4 separate regions of the Homo sapiens genome follow, and regions 1, 2 and 3 are each linked to region 4. The links come from fine-mapping of genetic effects on gene expression. A gene starts in region 4. Each other region holds a variant in brackets. All regions are shown on one strand. Distances are from middle to middle. Region 1 overlaps DMXL2 (Dmx like 2). Region 2 has its middle 83 kb from the start of GLDN. Region 3 overlaps DMXL2 (Dmx like 2). Region 4 holds the start of DMXL2 (Dmx like 2).

Region 1 (5,152 bases), 69 kb before region 4:
CACTATAAGAAAGAAGCAGAGGGCACCAGGAAAGTATTTAATAAGGAGACTTGACCTTGCCTGGGAGATCAGAGGATTTCTTAAGCAAGTGGTATTTAAACTGAGAGTTGAAGGATACATAAAAGACGACCAGGTAAAGAATAAGGAAGTCTGGGTATTGTAGGTATTCCCTAGACAGAGGGAACAGCACATAAAAAGACGTGGAAGCAGGAAAGAGCTTGGCATATTCAAGGCCTTGAAAGGACATCAGTGTCGTAGGCATTAAGGTGGGAATGAAGCTGGAGAGGCACGGAAGGGCCAGATCATACAGCAGAGCCTCACAGGCCATGGTAAAGATCATAATCTTCATTTTAGGAGCAATAGGAGTCATTAAAAGGTGGTGAAAAGGAGAACGGCATGTTCAGGTGGCTGGCTCCTGTGGGCAGACCAATCAGAGGATGTTTGCAGGACATCACTTAAGAGACTACTGTAAAGGTCTGCAGCCCCGAAGATGCTGACACAGGTAGTGGCAGTGGAGGGCAGAGACATGGACTTCAAAAACCTTAGCTGCTTCTGTGATCACTAAGATCATTAAAACTTTATGATTCCACAAAAGTTTCTTTGCTTTAATTTACGCACAGTTAGGCCTGTACTATCTACAGATGTTTAACTGTTCTCCCATGTGTTCTAGGTCTTTTGACAAAATTAACTGACATTCCCTCCTTGAACCTTTTTTCTTGGCTTCTCTAATGTCACATTCTCCTGGTTTTCGTTTTATTTCAGTGGTTACTCCTTCCCAGCATCCTTTGTAGGTATCTCCCCTCTCTCTATCATTTCTTAATGTTTGAGGATCCTGGGATTTGATCCTGAGTCCCATTCTCTTCTCTAATACACACGTTCTCCCTAGTTAATTTCATCCAGACCCATAACTTTAAACACCGCCTTTGGCTAAAGAATTCAAATTGCCAGAGAACTCCTGACTGTCTTATCCTATCTGATATGTTAACTCAGATGCATCTCAAACTTTGGTCTAACCACTACACTCCAGCTTTCTGTTGCTCTTTAACAAGCCCTGCTAATTCCTATTTCAGAGCATTTGCACTTGGTGTTTGTTCCCTTGGCCAAAAACACTCTTTCCCCTGAACTTCACAGTTGTCTCCTTCGTAGTATTCAATTCTCAGTTTAAAGGTTATCTCCTCAGCAAAGCTTTCTCTATAGATCACTCACTCTAACAGACACCCAATCACACTACTATATCATCCTGTCTTAATTTTCTGGACAGCACTTGTTAATACTTGATATTTTTTTCTGTCTTTCCTCACCAGAAATTAAGTCCTATAAGAACAAAAGCCTTGTCTATCATCTTCATCATAAGACTGCCAGCACACACAACAGTTCAGGGTATATGGTGGTGTTCAAAAGAATATCTGCTAAACATGTGAATGAAGGTTGTTAATTTCAGATATAATTTCAAATCAACTTTTTGTCCAAAATGCACTATCAATTTTACGTATATAAAGTCTATTATGATATGAATACAACTATAAAAGATTCTCATGTGTCTCACAAGTGCAGATTGCTAGAATTCTAAAATGCATTTTCTTTGCCCCGTTATATGATAAAAAAAAATCAAACAATATATATGTTAAAGTACAGTTGACCCTTCAATAACATGGGTTTGAACTGCACAGGTCCACTTACACGTGAATTTTCTTCTGCCTCTGCCACCCAAGACAGCAAGACCAACCCCTCCTCTTCTTCCTCCTCTCTCACCTACTAAATGTGAAAATGATGAGGATGAAGACCTTATGACCATCTACATCCACTTAATGAACGGTTAATTTATTTTCTCTTCCTTAAGGTTTTCTTAGTAACATTTTTCTTCTCTTCCTTAAAAGAGTATAGCACATATTGGATGCCACATGCAGGGTTTAAAAAAAAAAAAAGAGTAGAGTATACAATACCTATAACATACAAAATGTGTTAATTTATTGTTTATTTTATTGGAAAAGCTTCCAGTCAATAGTAGACTATTAGTAATTAAGTTTCTGGAGACTCAAAAGTTAGACAGGGATTTTTGACTGTGCAGGGGGTTGGATCACCTAACTGCCATGTTGTTCAAGGGTTAACTGTACATGAGTCAAGGAAAACTTAAGTGTATACAATACCTATCCATGATCATAGTGCCATTAACGATATTTAAAAGGAGGCAATAGGAAAACATGCTCCAAATGATGCACAGTGTGTACAATATCCAAGCTGACATCAGCAATGATTAACTGGGAATATCATAAAGCTGGATTCCAGTATGACTCTCCAGCAGCTCTCTGACATGCTGAACTGGTCCTATATTAAATCATCCATAGGTTCACCTATTATGGATTTGTTAAGTCAAAGGAATGACTGGCTTTATTAATCACTTATTAACGTGGTAATCCTAAGAAATATGAGTAACAAAAAAAAGACAAATCTGTGAGTTTTTTCAGTCAAATTTTAGGAGTAATGGGGTATTTGTTTTTAAAGATCCAAAGTTTTAAAGGTGACTGCCTGTTTTAGAGATCAAGACATGAATTACGTAAAATAAAATTAAAAAGGAAAAAAAGACATGAATTATATTATTTCTCAAACTGTTTTTCCAGTGATTCTGACAAGTGTACCCTTCATGAGATACCCACGCTTCTCAAGACATTACAGAAAATTCTTCACGTGTCTCTACATTTCTATCCAGAAATACTGTTTTATTATTTGTAGATTATTGAACTGGCTTATCAAAATTTCAGTGTTTTATTTTTAAAATCTAGTTTAAAAACAATGAGGCAAATTAGATGGAGTGGAGTGTGCAGGGGTGAGAGTTAGCAGAAGATGAGGTTGAAGCAGTGACGAGAGTCCTGGTAAGCATGGAGCATGCTAAACCATCACGAAGACTTGGTCTTTTGGTAAATGAAATGGAAAAGCTTTTGACGGTTTTGTACAAAAGAAGAGTGACAAGATCTGACAACATTTTAAAAAGATCACTCCAGGCCAGGAACAGTGGCTCACACCCATAATCCCAG[C/A]ACTTTGGGAGACCAAGGTGGGCAGATCACTTGAGGCCAGGAGTTCGAGACCAGCCTGGCCATCATGACGAAACTCCGTCTCTACTAAAAATACAAAAATTAGCCAGGTGTGGTGGCACACGCTTGTAATCCCAGTCACTTGGGAGGCTGAGGCACAAGAATTGCTTGAACCCAGGAGGCAGAGGTTGCAGTGAGCCAAGATTGCGCCACAGCACTCCAGCCTAGGCGACAGTGAGAGACTCTGTCTCAAAAAAACAATTTTTTAAATCACTCCACCTGCTGGTTTGAACATAGATTGTACAGAAGTGCAGCAAAAATTGGGAAACCAATTAAAAATTTAATACAATAATACAAGTGATAAATAATGGTGGCTTCAACCAGATTATAAGAGTGGAGGTGGTAAAGAAGTAAGCAGATTGTGGATATATTCTAAAGGTGAGCCATCAGGGAGTAGATTGAGGGGTTAGGGAAGTAGAGATCAGGGAAGAGGTACAGGCAAAAAATACAAAGTTGAATGTCATCAGCATACAAAAATGGCATTTAAATGGCATCAGAAATCTTAAGACTAGAAGAGCCCTGGGCACTCCAACATTTAAAAGTAGAAAAGATAACAGTAACAACTAAGCAGGGGTAGCCAGAGTTAAAAACAGGCAGAGTACAGAAGACTTTTAGGGCAGTAAAAAGACCTACAAAATTGATAAACTCTTGGTGAGATGAATGAAGAAAGAGGGAAGGCATAAATAATATCAAAACTGAAGAAGAAATCACTATACATGTATTATAGATATTAAAAGATAAGGTGTTTTACACAATTTTGTGCTAATAAATTTGAAAATCTAAATAAAACTGAAAAATCATAGGTAAATACAACTTACCAAAACTGACATACAAAAGAAAAAGAAAATCTGAATAATTTAAAAAACTGAATCCTACAAAGAAAATTCCTGATCCAGATGGCTTCACCAGCAAATACTTAAGAATAAAACTATATCAATCTTACATAAACTCTTCACAAAAGAGAGCTTTCCAACCCATTTATAAGGCCAGCATAACATCAACATAAAAATCTGTCAAGGACATTATGAAAACGGGAAAATTATTGGCCGAATCTCACTCTAACACATAAATCTTAAACAAAAGATCAGCAGATCAGGCCGGGCGCGGTGGCTCACGCCTGTAATCCCAGCACTTTGGGAGGCCAAGGCAGGTGGATCACGAGGTCAGGAGATCGAGACCATCCTGGCTAACACGGTGAAACCCCGTCTCTACTAAAAATACAAAAAATTAGCTGGGCGTGGTGGCGGGCGCCTGTAGTCCCAGCTACTTGGGAGGCTGAGGCAGGAGAATGGCGTGAACCCAGGAGGCAGAGCTTGCAGTGAGCCGAGATCGCGCCACTGCACTCCACCCTGGGTGACAGAGCGAGACACTGTCTCAAAAAAAAAAAAGAAAAAAAAAAAAAAAAAGATCAGCAGATCAAATCCAGCAAGGATAACACATTATAATGAAGTTGGGATTGTTCCAGGAATACAAGGTTTACAAAATCAGTCCATGTATTTCATCTTATTAAAAAATTAAAAAGATGGCCGGGCACAGTGGCTCATGCCTGTAATCCCAGCAGTATGGGAGGCCGAGGCAGGTGGATCATCTGAGGTCAGGAGTTCGAGACCAGCCTGGACAAAATGGTGAAACTTCATCTCTACCAAAAATACAAAAATTAACCGGCATGGTGATGGGTGCCTGTAGTCCCAGCTACTTGGGAAGCTGAAATGGGAGAAATACTTGAACCTGGGAAGCTGAGATTGCAGTGAGCTGAGATTGTGCCACTGGACTCCAGCCTGGGTGACAGAGCGAGATTCTGTCTCCAAAAAAAAAAGATAAAAATTGTCTCATTAGATGCAGAAAAAATGCTTCCTAAAATTCTATATCGTTTGTGGTTTAGAAAAACAATCTAGCAAACAACAAATAGAAGGAAAGTTTCTTTATCTGAAAAAAAAGTATCTACCACAAACATCAACAGTAAACATTATATTTATGATGACACAGTGAAGGGTATCCCTTTGAGACTGGGAACAAGAAAAAGATAGACCTGTTGTCACCACGTTTATTCAGCACTCTGCTAG
Region 2 (5,152 bases), 200 kb before region 4:
GTTGTTAGTTTTCCTTCTAACAGACAGGACCCTCAGCTGCAGGTCTGTTGGAATACCCTGCTGTGTGAGGTGTCAGTGTGCCCCTGCTGGGTGGTGCCTCCCAGTTAGGCTGCTCGGGGGTCAGGGGTCAGGGACCCACTTGAGGAGGCAGTCTGCCCGTTCTCAGATCTCCAGCTGCTTGCTGGGAGAACCACTGCTCTCTTCAAAGCTGTCAGACAGGGACACTTAAGTCTGCAGAGGTTACTGCTGTCTTTTTGTTTGTCTGTGCCCTGCCCCCAGAGGTGGAGCCTACAGAGGCAGGCAGGCCTCCTTGAGCTGTGGTGGGCTCCACCCAGTTCGAGCTTCCCGGCTGCTTTGTTTACCTAAGCAAGCCTGGGCAATGGCGGGCGCCCCTCCCCCAGCCTCGTTGCCGCCTTGCAGTTTGATCTCAGACTGCTGTGCTAGCAATCAGCGCGATTCCGTGGGCGTAGGACCCTCTGAGCCAGGTGTGGGATATAGTCTCGTGGTGCGCCGTTTCTTAAGCCGGTCTGAAAAGCGCAATATTCGGGTGGGAGTGACCCGATTTTCCAGGTGCGTCCGTCACCCCTTTCTTTGACTCGGAAAGGGAACTCCCTGACCCCTTGCGCTTCCCAGGTGAGGCAATGCCTCGCCCTGCTTCGGCTCGCGCACGGTGCGCACACACACTGGCCTGCGCCCACTGTCTGGCACTCCCTAGTGAGATGAACCCGGTACCTCAGATGGAAATGCAGAAATCACCCGTCTTCTGCGTCGCTCACGCTGGGAGCTGTAGACCGGAGCTGTTCCTATTCGGCCATCTTGGCTCCTCCCCAAGAATAATTATTTTTTACATAGGCTTTTAAATTGGCTTTGATGGAACCTTGTTCCATGGTAGGAATCTCAGACAAGACTTTTTTTTAAAGCCCAGCGCAGCCATAGATTTGTACCATGAAGTACTTATAAGTTGGGTGAACTCCTCTCCTCTTCAAGTTTCTTGATAAACTTGGAGCCCCTGGGCCTGTCAAATAGTGACATTTTTTACTTACCACAGTCAGGAACCCTGTACAGGGACTGTGTAGATAAAGATATGAGGCCAGTTTTTCCAAGGGACCTTCATTGGAATTGTAAGTCAAGTTTGATTCCTTCAAGGAAAGCACACCATTCCAGTCACAGCCTTGGTAATAACCACTTTCTCCAATTGTGTCCTGTTACAAATGAAAACCGATTGTTATTGCACTTATGTGAATAATGGTATTGTCTTAAGAATACTCACACATGGTTTTCAAATATTGTAGAAATCAGGTAGAGAGAAACAAATATGCTCCAAATTTTGTTTATAGGGGTATACTTTAATTACTAAAAGCTGTAAATAGCTTAGAAGAAAAGTTTTCTTGACTCAGAAAAACAAAGGATCAACAACGTTTTAAGCAAAAAGTTAAAAAGATTACTACTTTTAGACTTGTATTAGTTTAGTTCATGCAGTTAATTCCTGTACTGCTTGATATTCATGAACATTTCAGCTCTCCATGAGTCCTGAAAGTTTTTGCCTCTATTCTGATGTCACAATCTCCAAAGTTATCAGAAACCTGCATTTCAGAGTACCTGTTAGAATTTTATAGCTGATTATAAAACCACCTCCCAAAGAGGACTAAAACAAGATGACAGTTGTCCATGGATGACAAAAAGATTTAGGGCAGCCATAGTCAAACACACAATTGACAAGAAAATTTGTTACCTCTATGGCACACAATAATTTAACATAATTATTACTGATAATGTATACTGTATTATATCAGAATTATAGGAGTTTCCCGTAATTTTGGAACACATACCAATAACATAACTATACAAATACAGCTCAAAGAAAACCAAACACCATTTCATATTTGACAATGTTTCCTGTACAATTTTATACCAAATAAGCCAAACTATGTCATTTTAGGACTTTTGGGAACCTAATATCTTAAAGGATTAATTAGGCCAGAAAAAGACATAATTTATAATTTGATCTTGGAAAGTTTTCAACTATCAAAGGTTTAAAACTCTTGTTATCACAAAATAGGATCATTCATTTAACCAAAGTAATAACTCAAGGGTTTTTTTTAAAAGGCAAAAACCTTCATTTTTTTTGGAGGAGACTTAATTTTCCAAACAATAAGCCCTAATAAAAACAGCATGCAGCCAATTAAATTTGTTTTTCAAAATTTTATAAACTACCTATAAAATTTTAATCTTGACCATAAGAAACAACTTCCATAAGCCTTTTATAACATTTATATCCTTTATTAAGAAGTTGGTTAATGCTTCAAGAAAACCTTGTTAATCTGACACAGGGGCCCATACACTGGTCTTGCATCAGAGTGCCTTTGACATTAATGATTTCTATATAATAGAGAAACTGAAGTTATCTTTCAAAATTGGCCCTTACAATCTTCTGTGCCCACTTCTTCCATGATGCCCCTGGGCCTTGAGTTGAATAGCTTTAATTTCTGGCCCTGTGTCTTAGGAATGCTGTTTATTTTGATTGACGTCACCATAGGAATGCAGTTTGTTTTGATTGACATCCTCTGTGGGGCCTGAAGGTGAGGATTTAATTGCTGTCAGTGTTTAAGATTTGGCAGGACTTGATGTCCTTTTTAGACCCAGGGGTCAAAGCCCTGTAACTCACTGTAACAAGGACTTTAAAAGCATGTACAGAAAGATACACAGATGT[A/G]ATAACCTCAACTAAATTTTTTTTACATCAGGCCCAATCTCTAGAATGACCATTATACTTTTTTTTAATGAAAAACAACTTGATCTTATAAGTTTTTGGTTTTTTTAAATAAATCCTCTTATTGTGATTTACATAGACCATTCATGACATGGTTAGACTTTCTGGTTTGTCCTGAACAATCTTCTTTCTTAACCAGTCATTTTATTCTGGGACTAAATTTACCATACAATATTTTGTTCTTACATAAAATTATCGATCTTTAAGCTTTCTTACCCACCAAAACTCTTTACTTTTATAATTTTCTTTACATCTTTCATATTTCCTGGTTCCTTTTAACTTGTTTCATATATAACCTTTAAATCAGCTTTGAATTAGACAAAAATTATTTGCCTTTTTAAAAGGACACTTTTTTTAGTAAGAATGTTTTTCTACAATATATTTGTGTAGGAAAATACTCAAATAATGAAATATGTTATTTAATATAACCTTAGATTCTAAACTATAACAAGTTTATCTACAAGTATTTATCCCATACATTTACCTAATTATTTTAATCATTTACTTAGATTAAATGATGACTATGCAGTTTTTATAAATAAAGCTATGAAACTGTCATTGCAAAATTATAACTGAGACAGTGAAAAAGATCTGCCCTAAATGACTGTCTTGCTTCTAACCTCAAGCTGTCATTGTTCATTCCTGGATATAGGCCAAACTAACTTTGAGAAGGGCTTAGTTTATAGTTTAGCTTGATACAAAAAGGATAACAGTCCTTTCCCAAGGCAAACCACCTTACTGCCTGTGTACTCGACTGCCTAAGGCCACAGGATTAGAAGTTAAGATAATTTTACTAAATTCAAGATGTAGCTATTTTCATTAAACCAATATTAATGTCTTATTAAAAATTACACAAGCAAAGATCATTCTGTTTGGGGCTGTTGATAGTTTTGTAACCCTTATGCCAAATGTTGATACCTTATAATATTTGGCAAGGATAAGTATGAAACTGCTTGATTAATAAATGTAAACAAATACATCTGCTGGCAATTCTTAAGACATTTCCGATATTGATCAATAATTTTAAAGCTAGCTTATTAAGATTTTACTTAAGTCATGTAAATTTGAAAAAGGATTTGACCAGTTTTTCCTTTAAGATAAAGTATTTGATTTAGGCACTTTTATTTTTTAAAGCCAATTAGAGCTCTTCTATATATTTTCAGTAGTGAAACATTGTGTACACAACACTTAAATACATAGATGTATTAGGAATGCCGATAAAAGTACAATTTATAGATTCATAAAAACCTTTTTCCCTCTATCTTAGACTTTCAGATTCTTCATAACCTCTTTCACAACCCTAGGCAGTTGTCAGGTAAATAGCCTTAAATTTGCATATTAAAGGAAACAAGGTGAAAATCAAATAGCAAAATTTACATCATAAGGTACAGAGAGAAAAACTGGTGTGCTAGAGGGAGATTAAAGATGGATGTCAAATCAAACATAAAATTATAAAAATCTATCATATGATTGTAAAAGGAGACCAATTATATTTAGACAGGGATTACCTATCTTTTTTTTTTTTTTTTTTTTTTTTTTTTTTTTTTTTTTTTTTTTTTTTTGAGACGGAGTCGCGCTGAGTCACCCAGGTGGAGTGCAGTGGCGCGATCTCGGCTTACTGCAAGCGCTGCCTCCCAGGTTCATGCCATTCTCCTGCCTCAGCCTCCCAAGTAGCTGAGACTACAGGTACCTGCCACCACGCCCAGCTATTTTTTTCTATTTTTTAGTAGAGACGGGGTTTCACTGTGTTAGCCAGGATGGTCTTGCTCTCCTGACCTCTCGTGATCTGCCTGCCTCGGCCTCCCAAAGTGCTGGGATTACAGGCGTGAGCCACCACGCCCGGCCAGGGACTACCTATCTTTTAACTATATCTCTAAACTTTAGGCAGAACCCACACTGAATCGTGGGTTTCCAAAAAGGGAGAATCGTTATGAGGCTAGATCACATGATGTTACAATGCACTTAAAATTTTTTAAACAAAGGCATTTCTAAGTGTCTATATTACACTCTAATTTAAAAACCCAAGTATAGCCTCTGTTGCAATAATTACTTTAGTTAATCAGGTAACACAATACAAAAGCAGCTTAAAAGCTGAGATGAACTTGTCTATTCACAATCTTGGGGTTCCATAAAGAAAAACAGGTTCCTCCCCGAAAGGGAGTCTGGTACCTTCTCCATTTTCTTTAAGGAACCCCAGGCTATTATAAATTATTTTAGTTCCCTCATGCAGCAGAGGGTGCAAGAGAAAGAAGAGACAGCAGAAGTATATGGAGAAAACAGAATTCAGTCAACTAGAAGAAAAAAACTTTTGCTCAAAACAAGGACAAGGCCCTAGGAGAGAATAAAAAAACATGAAGGCCTTTTAAATACACACACACACACACA
Region 3 (5,152 bases), 160 kb before region 4:
TGTGAAGTCATTCTCTTAACATTATGTAGATTCCTTTTCATAAGCTTTAAAAGAAAATTTTAAAAATTTTATTTTGTGTATGCAGAAAAGATGAGGAAGGATATGCTTCAGGATAAATTCTGACATTTATTCTCTTACACCTTGCTTATTACTGAGATAAAGCCTGTTATGGATGTTCTGAACCACTACATAGAACACTTGTCTGAAGAGGGTGAGGAAGCACAGTCACTTGCTGGTATAGCCCTGGCCTGTGAGGTTACCAAGGAGCTTCATCTCATAATAAAGGAACTCTTCTTCAAGTGCCCCTCCCTGAGGATATTCAGGAGCACCTCCAGATGCTTCAGAGCAGAACATAAGAATGGGACCCCTCCAGCTACAGTGACAAGAATGTTACTGACATGCTTTCAAGCACTTAGAAGTAGACATGAATTCCCCTTTAACTTTGCTTTACCATTTTGTATCTGTTTATTCATCTGTAAAATGATAATGGAGGGTAATAATAGCACCTACCACCTAGGATTGTTGTGAGAAAAAGCATGTATCTGACACTAAGAAAGTCATATGAGGCCAGTGTGGTGGCTCATGCCTGTAATCCTAGCACCTTGGGAGGCTGAAGCGGGTAGATCACTTGAGCCCAGGAGTTCGAGAACAGCCTGGGCAGCGTGGTGAAACCCCATCCCTACAAAAAATACAAAAATTAGCCAGGCACGCTGGCATGCACCTGTAGTCCCAGCTACTTGGGAGGTTGAGATGGAAGGATCAATTGAGCCCAGGAGGTCAAGGCTGCAGTGAGCCGAAATTGCACCACTGCACTCCAGCCTGCGCGACAGAGCCAGACCCTGTCACCAAATAAAAAAGCCACAATAAATGTCAGCTGTCATTATCATGGCCTATCTACTGGTGTTTGTCCCTGAAATTTAGGATCATTCCTATGTCAAAGAGATTCCAACTGATTTTTCAGAGTCCAAATCCAGAAATGATACCTATAAGTAAATAACATACCACACTAGCTCCAGTGCTAGTCTGTCCAGTGCCCAGCCATGGCAGAGATGAAGGTGGATGCACCTGACTTGCTGAATAGGATGTTGCACTGGGTTGATAAAGAGTTGTAGTGGAACCACGATAATCAACATCATCTGAACTGTGAAAAACATTCATGTGTTACTGTGAACATTCCCTTTTCTCTTAACACAAATTCCAACTAAAAATCTTCTTATGTACCCATAGGACAATCTTTATTTTAAAAACTAAGTAGCCATGAGAAAAACTTAGGTACAAGTCCTAATCGCCAATGTTAATACTGGTTAACTTTTTTCCCTTTTGGCAAAATGTAAATTTAGTCTAATGTTGTTTGGGGACAACTTTATTGCTGCACAAGTTGAAACAAAAGTTTGTTGTTATCTATGGAAAAATATTATGTTCTCTTCAAGTACAGATAGCTCAGTATCAAATTAACACGTTTAAAGAAATTTGAGTTTAAAGATTTCTTGGAGTAAGACATATAAAATGTGAAAGTAATTGTTGGGATGGATTGTATCATAGTACATGGTTATATCTACTCTGAAATGTGATATTAAATCCTAGTTATATCACATACTAACAAAAAAAAGAATTCAACAAAATGAGGAGAGAAACTATCATGGCACCATCCTCAAGCATGAACAATTTCTAAGAGTCTGGAGAAAAGCAGGAGGGAAGGCAAACCACAAAGAAGAAACCTCAAAATAGGTAAGAATGGCAAAACACTCTTGGTGCAGTGTCCATAGCTTCAATGAAAAGTAAAGCCGTCTACATTTTTATGTTTAAGAAAAGGTATGCTTATCAGGTGATAAGAAGAAACACTGCAAAATTACTCGGTAAATGTGACTCAGTGTAATTAACATATTTGTGTCTACTGTTTTAATTATCCAGATCAGATTAATTTACTGAATATCATGAAGCCAAGTGTTAGGGATTATCCTTATTGAAATATTATCAATAGTGTAGGGTTTAATGGAAGTGTAATTCATTCAGTTAATGTAGACAAAGACTTTCACTGGCAGCTAAACCAATTATATTTGTCACCTACCCAAATGAAGGAGATACACGTATACCTTTTGAAATAATTCAAATCATGTGCATAACCATTTGGTGGGTACTTCTTACAGAAAACTATATGTAAAAGTGACTATGAGACAAACCTTTTGGATTCTCTGTCATATTCTTCTCCGATCCATATGTATGACTGACAGGCCAGTAGAGAAGTAACATCAAGTTCTTGAACATCATGTGTTGAAGCCAAAACAATTTCATTACAATTTGCCTATAAAGCAAAGGCAGAATCGATGATTTAAGCAATTTCACTAAGGAGAAATACACTGTGTATAATGATGAGAGCTTTTACCTTATTAACAGAAAATGCCATGATCATATCAGATTCCTTATGGATGACTTTCGCCTTTCCACCTGGATAGCCCAGATCAGCTTCAACCTAGAAAACATTCATCAGCAGTTTTAGTTGCTGCAGCACAGCTCTATTTAGAGTTATGCACATCCCATAAGATTTAAATGTAGGATAAGAAGAAAATGTAGCAGCAGCAGCAGCAGCAGCAGCAAGAAAAAAGGGTAAGAGTAACTTTAATGTGTTGAAAACTAGCTTTGGAAAATTTGCTTAAATTCTCTGATGTCCTGTAATCACCCCAATTTCCACTGTGATGGTAAGATACTGATTAATTATAAAACATGGCTAATATATTTTTATTAGTAATTTATACAGTAGTATGTCTCTCTTAGCTCTTCCAAAAGTGCATAAATATTCTGCAATAAGAATGTGTATACATTAAGAGGCACAGAGTGGAGTAAAAAGCCATAGAAAACCGCAAAGAAACCACCCTTTGAAGTAAGGGTGGTGAGACAGAAATAAGGAAAAGTTG[T/G]AAAGAGGGATACTTCGAAAGGAATAAAAGAGACTGATGAGAGGAAGATGCAATGGCTTAGGGTTGGTGATGGGAAGGAAAGAAAAGGCAGAATCAAGAAGATGAAACAGCCATGCTTAAAACAGAAAAAGTGACAAGTGAAGATGGGACAGGGAGCAAGAAAGAGAAGAACCAAGGGCAAGACAGAGCAAGCCAGATACAGTGAAGCATCTCCTCCCCTGTGCCACTGAAGTGGTATGGGAGTACTATGAGTTCTCTGAGTAGTTAGCCAGTTGGGCAGGTCATGGTTAGTATCAGAGATGAGGCGTTAGCTCCTTGAACTTTAAAGAATGAGCTAAATACAAGATCTTGGAATACTACCTTGATGTGGCAATCTTCTGCTATGCAGTTTTGGTTGACCTGCTCCACATGTTCTTCTATAGACTAAATACCACCACACCGTCACAAACACAAAACACATGCATGGAATGAAATTATAAAGACAGTGAAATATTTCAAGCTGAAATGGCCACTCCACCACTTAAAGATGATAAAAATGAATTTGCAAAATCAAGAAAAAATTAAACCGAATAAAACAGTCATCAAATAAACACAACACAAAGCCAAAAGAGCAAAATTAATGTGACTATTACATAAACACAAGAACATAAAAGCTATTTCAAAATAAAAATTAGTTATCTGTATACAGTTTTAAGAAATCTAAGTTACATAACTGGTAATCTATAAAATTAAAGCCCATTTGTATAAGCAGATGCAGAAGATGCTACATAAATTCCTGCCCTATAGGGGTTGATTTAAAATACAAATTAAAATATTTATTTCTAAACATAGATTCAAAATATTGATAATTATTTCACTCTTATAAGGAATATGATGATTTTTCTCTAAGTAAATAAATGTTTAATAAAATCAGGCACGGAAAAAGAAATAACTCAGTAATTTGCTCCCGGGTTGATGCAGGGTCCTAAGGATGGCTGCAATCAGAAGTTATATTTCTGCTCTGCTGTGGAAACTCTGAAGGTTTGATCAGAGAAACAAACTCTTCCTCATACCTTTTCAGGTGACTGCCTTCCTTTCATCACGAAGGGCCATTCAAATTTTCTGCCCATGCCTCCAGGGACTCCCCTATGGCTGCTGCAGCTGATAAAGATGCATCCAAGAAAACTTCCAAGGAATGGTCAATGTGTGGCACAGCTAACTCAGTGAAGGCCAAACTGCTGAAGAATCTATTTGTCTTAACTAGCTGAATTCACCAATCTGTTTCCCAAAAACTTGTTTTGTGAAATATTTTCCTGTAATATCTTCAGTGAATAAAAGATCTTATTCTTATAAATATATAACTTCAGCATTTCTCAGGGATTTTTTTTAAATGCACCCAGCATTTTTAGGATTAGCCTGCCAATTTTATTGGTCAATTTTCTGAATTTGCCAAATTTAGTGATTACCAAAATCCTATTTGACAATTTTAAAGATGTAAGCACTCTTACTGGATTGGGTAGAGTTTTAGTAAGTTTTGCATATTTCTGAGCCTAACGACGAGTTTTTATTTTGTCCTAACAGCCTTAATGTTTTATTCATAATTTTTTTCTTAATAAAACACCTTTTTTTTCAGATCTGAGCTATTCAAAACAGCAATCACTAACCATATGTAACTATTTAAATTTAGATCAATTAAAATTAAAATTCAGTTTCTCAATCATGCTAGCCACATTTCAAGTACTCAGTAACCACATGTGGCTGGTGACTACTATGTTGGACTATGCAGATACAGATTTCCATCATCACAGAAAGTTCTATGGGACAGTACTGGACAAGACAGTAATTCCATTCAATGTTTTAAAATTAAAAGGGTACATGATAAAAATTCTTCCATCCTAACTCCCAGCCATGTACTTCCCTTCCTTGGAGCCAACTGATGCTTATATAGCACTTTAAGAAACATTCCGTTTATCTCTGTCCTACTTCCCTGTTCATGGGGACCCACTGCTGGAAGAAAAATAGAACACACAGAGACTGAGGGGCATAATGGAAGGGAGACTAAGGGGCGGAGAGGGGGAGAATTAGTTAAGGAAGAAGCAAACTCGTGGGGAAGGGCAAGACGAGAATGGGAGGGTCCAAGAAACCCAGACACCTGGCTTCCCACAGCACTCTACACTCTGACAAGTCAACCAGTCAAGCTGCTATCAACCTTACCAATACTTAAAACATACTTGTGATAAATCATTAATTTTAATAATTTG
Region 4 (5,152 bases):
GGTGTGGAGGATGAAGAAGTTATCGGACATGACAGTTTTGAAAGCTTTTATATTAATACCAATAAGATTGTAAAATAAGGTGGTGGTTAAGGATATGAAAAGGAGTAAATCTGGTAGACAGTGCAGAGTCAACTAGACTTCGTGAAACGCTGAATTAGGGAAGTGCAAGAAGATTTGAAAATGACTCTAAGCATCTGGTCACAAGTGGCCTACAGCATAACCACACCTGCACAGCACTAACAGTTCTTACACAGGCTTTTCCAGGCTGCATCTGAACCCGTTTATTTAGTTCTACATACCAGACCTGCCGTGAGACAGCACTCCACTTTAGATGGAAGCAGAAAACTACCACCACCATTCTAGCAGGAAAATATAACCAAAGATTCCAGCTTTGTTTCTTGATGAAAGAGGCCCACTCTTCTAACCCTGAGGAACTTCCTATCTGCACTACTGGGGAACAGGGAAATTTCTTCTCTCTATCCCCAAAAACCAAGATTCTCCACACACTTGAAGACAAAGCTCAGCTCTATATGAATATTTTAAGTCACATGTACATAAAACACAGATGACAAAAGGGGTCGTTCTAAACTGGAGCTAGGCCAAGTGGATTACACTAAAAAATTAAAATGGCTAAAAAGCAATCTTCTGGGGTTAATGTATCACAAAACGTCAAAAAATAAATTCTGTTCCAGAATGCACTGCTACATAATGATTCTGCAGTTTTGCTGAAGCTTTATTTTCCGCAGTTTTAAAAACACTGTTGGAAAGCAGACATCAAAGGGTTTTCCTTGTCTAAAAAGCATACCATTACGGAATTTCCAGTTTTATCAAGAAGAACAGTTTACAAAATATATTTAATAAAGGTCTGGCTGCCTACAGTTCCTTATAAGGAAGACCATGTATAAATTTCATTCTTTAAAAAAGAACTCAATTTATGGGAGTCTATCTATGAGTAAACGAAGCTCCAAGGCTTGGTTTAAACATTTCCACTCTCAAAAAGGACTGATGAGTCCAATCTCCTTGAGAAACATGTCTACTTCATCTAGCTTTTAAGGAGATTCTAAAACGTTATGTATACATACACTTTTCTCAAACAAGCACTGTTGTAAATTTTTCACATTGCCTTACTATATTAAAAAAAAGGCTACCTTACAGATTAAAATATTATCTAGGAGGATTACCAAACTACGACCTCCTGATAAATGAGACAGCTCTCCAAGCCACTGTGACTCTAACCTTTCCATTCTAAATCTTTCGGGCGCGGAGGATGAATTTTTCTATCTTTTTGTTGGAATTAAGATCCTGCATTATCAGGAGATACAGAGTCAGGCTTAAAGCCACAGACTCCAGCAGCTCCTCGCTGCCCTAGCACAGCGGGCAGGGGGAGCCAAGGCGCAGCATCGCCTCCACGCTCCGAGACCAACACCAAGTCTCTTCACCTCCACGCTCCGAGACCAACACCAAGTCTCTTCGCCTCCACGCCGAGAGCAGCTGCGAAACGGACGCTCTGGGGTTTCAGCCGCACCACCACTTTCCTCCACCGCAGACCGAAGGGCCGCCCTAGGAGGAGCCTTCTAGTCCAGTCACCTCAGGCCCGTTTGCTTGGGGTGGAGAGTGCGGTGGATTCCTAAGCCTTTCCCCTAACGGGTGATTTCCTACACCAGACGCAGGACCCACGGTCCCACGGGTCCCAGGGGGAACTAAACCCCAAGGCTGCAAAGGGGCCACGGGTGGGGCCCACCAACATCTCACAGCCTCCTGAGGAGGCGTGCGCCCTGGACAGGAGGTCCCTGCCCCCGCGTCTGGCCCCTGGTATCTTCCCCTAGGGCTCCCGGCCGCCGCTCACCGTGAAGGGGACATCCCCGACGCTGCCCACGGAGTAGCAGTTGTCTCCAGGGTTGACAGCTCCGGTGAGGACCTGATGCAGATGCATCTCCGGAGCCCGGGCTGGACAGAATGCGCGGGAGGTGCGACAAGCTCCGCGCCTGACCCTCCTCGGGCTGCGAGAGCCGTTTCCCTCTGTGCCTCCCTCGGAAACCCGCCCCGCGGAGGCTCTGGCTTAACTCCTCGCCCCCCTTTCGCCTTCCCTCCGCCTCGTCCCTGCCATGGGAGCTCCTCGACCGCCGCCGCCGCCCGGGTCGCCGCTCAGCTGCGGAAATGCCCGGATGTTCCCACTGCCTGCTGCACCGGCGCACAAATGCGGGAGGGCAAGGGTGCTTGTGAGGCGGGGGAGGGCACCGGGGGGAACGCGCGAGCCGGGAGCGTGCAGCAAGGGAGCGGGCCAGCGCGCGCGCCCACCGCGGGGGAGCGAGGTAGAGCCCTCCCCCCGCGGCAAAGCTCTCAGCTCAGTCTTTCTTCCCCCCATCACCCGCGTTTGCGCGTGCGCGCGCCGTGGTTTCCAGGGCAATTGCGCGCGCCACGCCGACCCGCCGTCCCGTGATTGCGCGCGCAGACGTGCGGGAGTTCCCTTGGAGCCTCCCGGGCTGTAGCCGCTGCGGACTGGGGCGGAGGTGGGGGCGGGGGCGAGTGGGGTGCAGGTCGCTCGGGGCCACGCAGCAGTCGGACGCCGGGGACGCGCCACGAGCCGGTTTTGCTGTGTTGAACGTATTCCAGAATACAGTGTGCAATGGTCAGTGCCGTTGACCTCAGAAGGACACCCGTCACCGGGAATTTCCACCTGGAGATATCTTAGATATCTTCAGTCTTTTCGAAAGTGCAGTACATAAGATATTTTATTTTACATAAACAATGTAGGCATCTTGCAACTATTTAGAGAAGCCATACTCCCCTGAAAGCTAATTATTTTGCTCCCACCTTTTGTCACGGTTATTCTAGACAGCAAAAAGCCGCCTTAGAGACGGGTGACTCCTTTCGACTTTTTTTCATGAGTAATTTCATGAATTAGCAGAATCGCCTGATTTTCCAAACTATCTGCTAAACTTTGAATGGTTGATAACAAGGATCATCAGCTCCCTGCCACAGGCCAATTCATGGCAAATGTTCTAACCCATACTATGCTTAAATCACAGGGTAAGGAAGTAGGGGACACCAAGACATAACTATCTGTAAAACCAGGCAGAACGCCAAAGGTGGTGTGATTGAGATATAAAAGTCTTTATGCACCACAGAAGAGGAAGAAGAATGTTGACTAAGGGCGTGGATAAGGCATTATGGAGACATAACCTGACATAAACGCTGAGTTTAATTTTGACAGGCTGAGATAGACAAGAAATGCTGCAAATACAGTACAGAAAATAGAGGGGGTGTTGAAGGTACAAAGATTAATGTTTGAGGCAGATGATTTATAGGGTAGGGAAAGTAAATAATACTTAGCAAGAGATCAAGGTATCCAAGTGGTCTAACTCTTGGCCTACCAAAACATATTATGGAGAGTCTTGAATGCTCCAAGAAGCCCAGATTTCACTCTGCATGCAGTGGGGGTATATCAGATGTTTCTGAGCAAAAATTTATATAATCAGAGCTGCTTTGGGAAGATGACTTTGTAGCATTTTGAAGCATAAAGGGAAGGGTGGGGAAGATTGGAGGCAAAGATCTGTCAGTCGTTGGTAATCTTTTCAGTAGAAAGTTGCAGGAGGAATGAAAAATAATACCTAATGACCTGCGGCATTCTCTCTCTTTCTCTCTCTCCCCCCTCCCTCCCCTTCCCTCCCCCCCCCTTCCTCCCTTCCCCCGCGCCATATCCAAGGGTTCCTTTTTGTTACTACTAGATTCTAGATGAGTCTCTTAATCTTTGACCTTCACTGCATTAGAAACCAAGTCAAAACTATCATCAAACAACAAATTGTACTCAGGTTTCCAAGAGTGTTACTAATTCACATTATTTAAACCATTTCACATTTGGCTCTTGTTTTACAGCATTCCATGAAGTTTTGGCCCATTCACACAGTTGTGAAGTTGTGAGCCTCTTTCTTCCTCTCGGTATCAAACTCAAAATCTGAAGCCTGTATCCACCTGTTCTCTTCCCTCATGAATCCTTTAAATGGCTTCTTGATAGCTGTATCTTAAGGTTGCAAATGACTAATTAAGTCTCCTGGAATTACAGCTGAGCCTTTTATTGTCCAATCTGATCAGTCAAAACTCACTCCAGACTAATATGGCAAGTTTCCTTGGTAGCCCACCAGGGCAGCTAGACCACACTTTTGACTGTCCACAATTTCATCTCTTCCTTGTTCATGCAAATTTTTTCATGGACCTAAAAACAAATTGGAAATTCTTTCTTCTAATTTTGGAAAGGGCTTTCTTTTAAAAATTAGAAAAAGTAGCAGTTTTGTATCATTAACAAAATATGCTAATCGAATTGTAAGATATAATTTATCATGTCCACAACTCTTTTTTTTTTCTTTTTGCTTTGATTTGAGATCCCAACACAACTCTTAATAGTACCTTTGGGGTTGGGTTTAATGGCCCATTGAATGTGTGCCATTAAATGTGGGACTTAGTTTCCCAGCAGTATCACCTACCGATGTGTACTAGTTATCAATTACTGTGCAATAAATTACCCCAAAATTTATCAGCCAAAAATAACAGTAGAGATTCATTACCTCACAGTTTCTGTGAATCAATAATTTAGTAGTAGCTTAGCAGGAAAGTTCTGGTTCAGAGTCTTTCATGAGATGGCAATCAAAATGTCAGCTACATGCTAAATAAAAGAAGCTGGACACAAAAGACCACATAATTCGTTTGTATGAAATCATTTGTATGAAATTTTCTGAAAAGACAAATCTACAGTCACAGAAAATAGGTTAGTGGTTGCCTGGGGCTGAAGGTGGAACTGAGAGTGACTGCTAATGGATATGAGGTTTCTTTTTGGCATGAGATAAACATTCTAAAATTAGATTGTGGTCATGGTTGGGCAGTTCTGTAAAATTACTAGAAATCATTGAATTGTATACTTGAAATTAGTGAATTGTATGGTAATTAAATTATACTTTCAATAAAGCTATCTAAAAAAGAAATAGCCAGGGATACAGTCATCTGAAGTCTTGACTGAAGTTAAAGGCCCTGCTTCCAAGATGGCAGGCTCTCATGGCTAGCAAGTTGAGCCTAATAGATAGATGGAGGCCTCAGTTCCTATGTGTTCCTCTCCATAGTGCTGTGTGAGTGTCCTCAAGACACGGCGGCTGACTGCTCC

Evidence for each region. PIP is the estimated chance that this variant, and not a neighbour inherited with it, causes the effect. A credible set is the group of variants that fine-mapping cannot tell apart.
Region 1: its variant is the best candidate, but not a certain one, in a credible set for the expression of DMXL2 in whole blood (TOPMed, PIP 0.50).
Region 2: its variant is the best candidate, but not a certain one, in a credible set for the expression of DMXL2 in lung (TOPMed, PIP 0.58).
Region 3: its variant is the best candidate, but not a certain one, in a credible set for the expression of DMXL2 in whole blood (INTERVAL, PIP 0.79).

Annotation. Positions count from the first base shown.
Region 1 is chr15:51,551,878-51,557,029 of GRCh38, forward strand. All of the region lies in intron 6 of DMXL2 (Dmx like 2), which reads right to left. Among named protein-coding and RNA genes, the nearest start is that of DMXL2, 68 kb to the right of the region's middle. The variant C/A (reference allele first, on the strand shown) is at 3,033.
Region 2 is chr15:51,422,418-51,427,569 of GRCh38, forward strand. No RefSeq gene overlaps it. Among named protein-coding and RNA genes, the nearest start is that of GLDN, 83 kb to the left of the region's middle. The variant A/G (reference allele first, on the strand shown) is at 2,711.
Region 3 is chr15:51,456,326-51,461,477 of GRCh38, forward strand. It overlaps DMXL2 (Dmx like 2), which reads right to left. Exons shown (of 44, transcript NM_001378457.1): 34 at 3,273-3,335; 35 at 2,384-2,470; 36 at 2,181-2,302; 37 at 1,003-1,141; 38 at 1-44. Among named protein-coding and RNA genes, the nearest start is that of GLDN, 120 kb to the left of the region's middle. The variant T/G (reference allele first, on the strand shown) is at 2,913.
Region 4 is chr15:51,620,613-51,625,764 of GRCh38, forward strand. It overlaps DMXL2 (Dmx like 2), which reads right to left and starts at 2,159. Exons shown (of 44, transcript NM_001378457.1): 1 at 1,847-2,159. The coding sequence starts at 1,933. LOC105370816 (a long non-coding RNA gene) reads right to left here. Exons shown (of 5, transcript XR_932236.3): 4 at 4,563-4,674; 5 at 4,072-4,213. RefSeq lists an enhancer at 1,297-1,706 and a silencer at 2,077-2,296.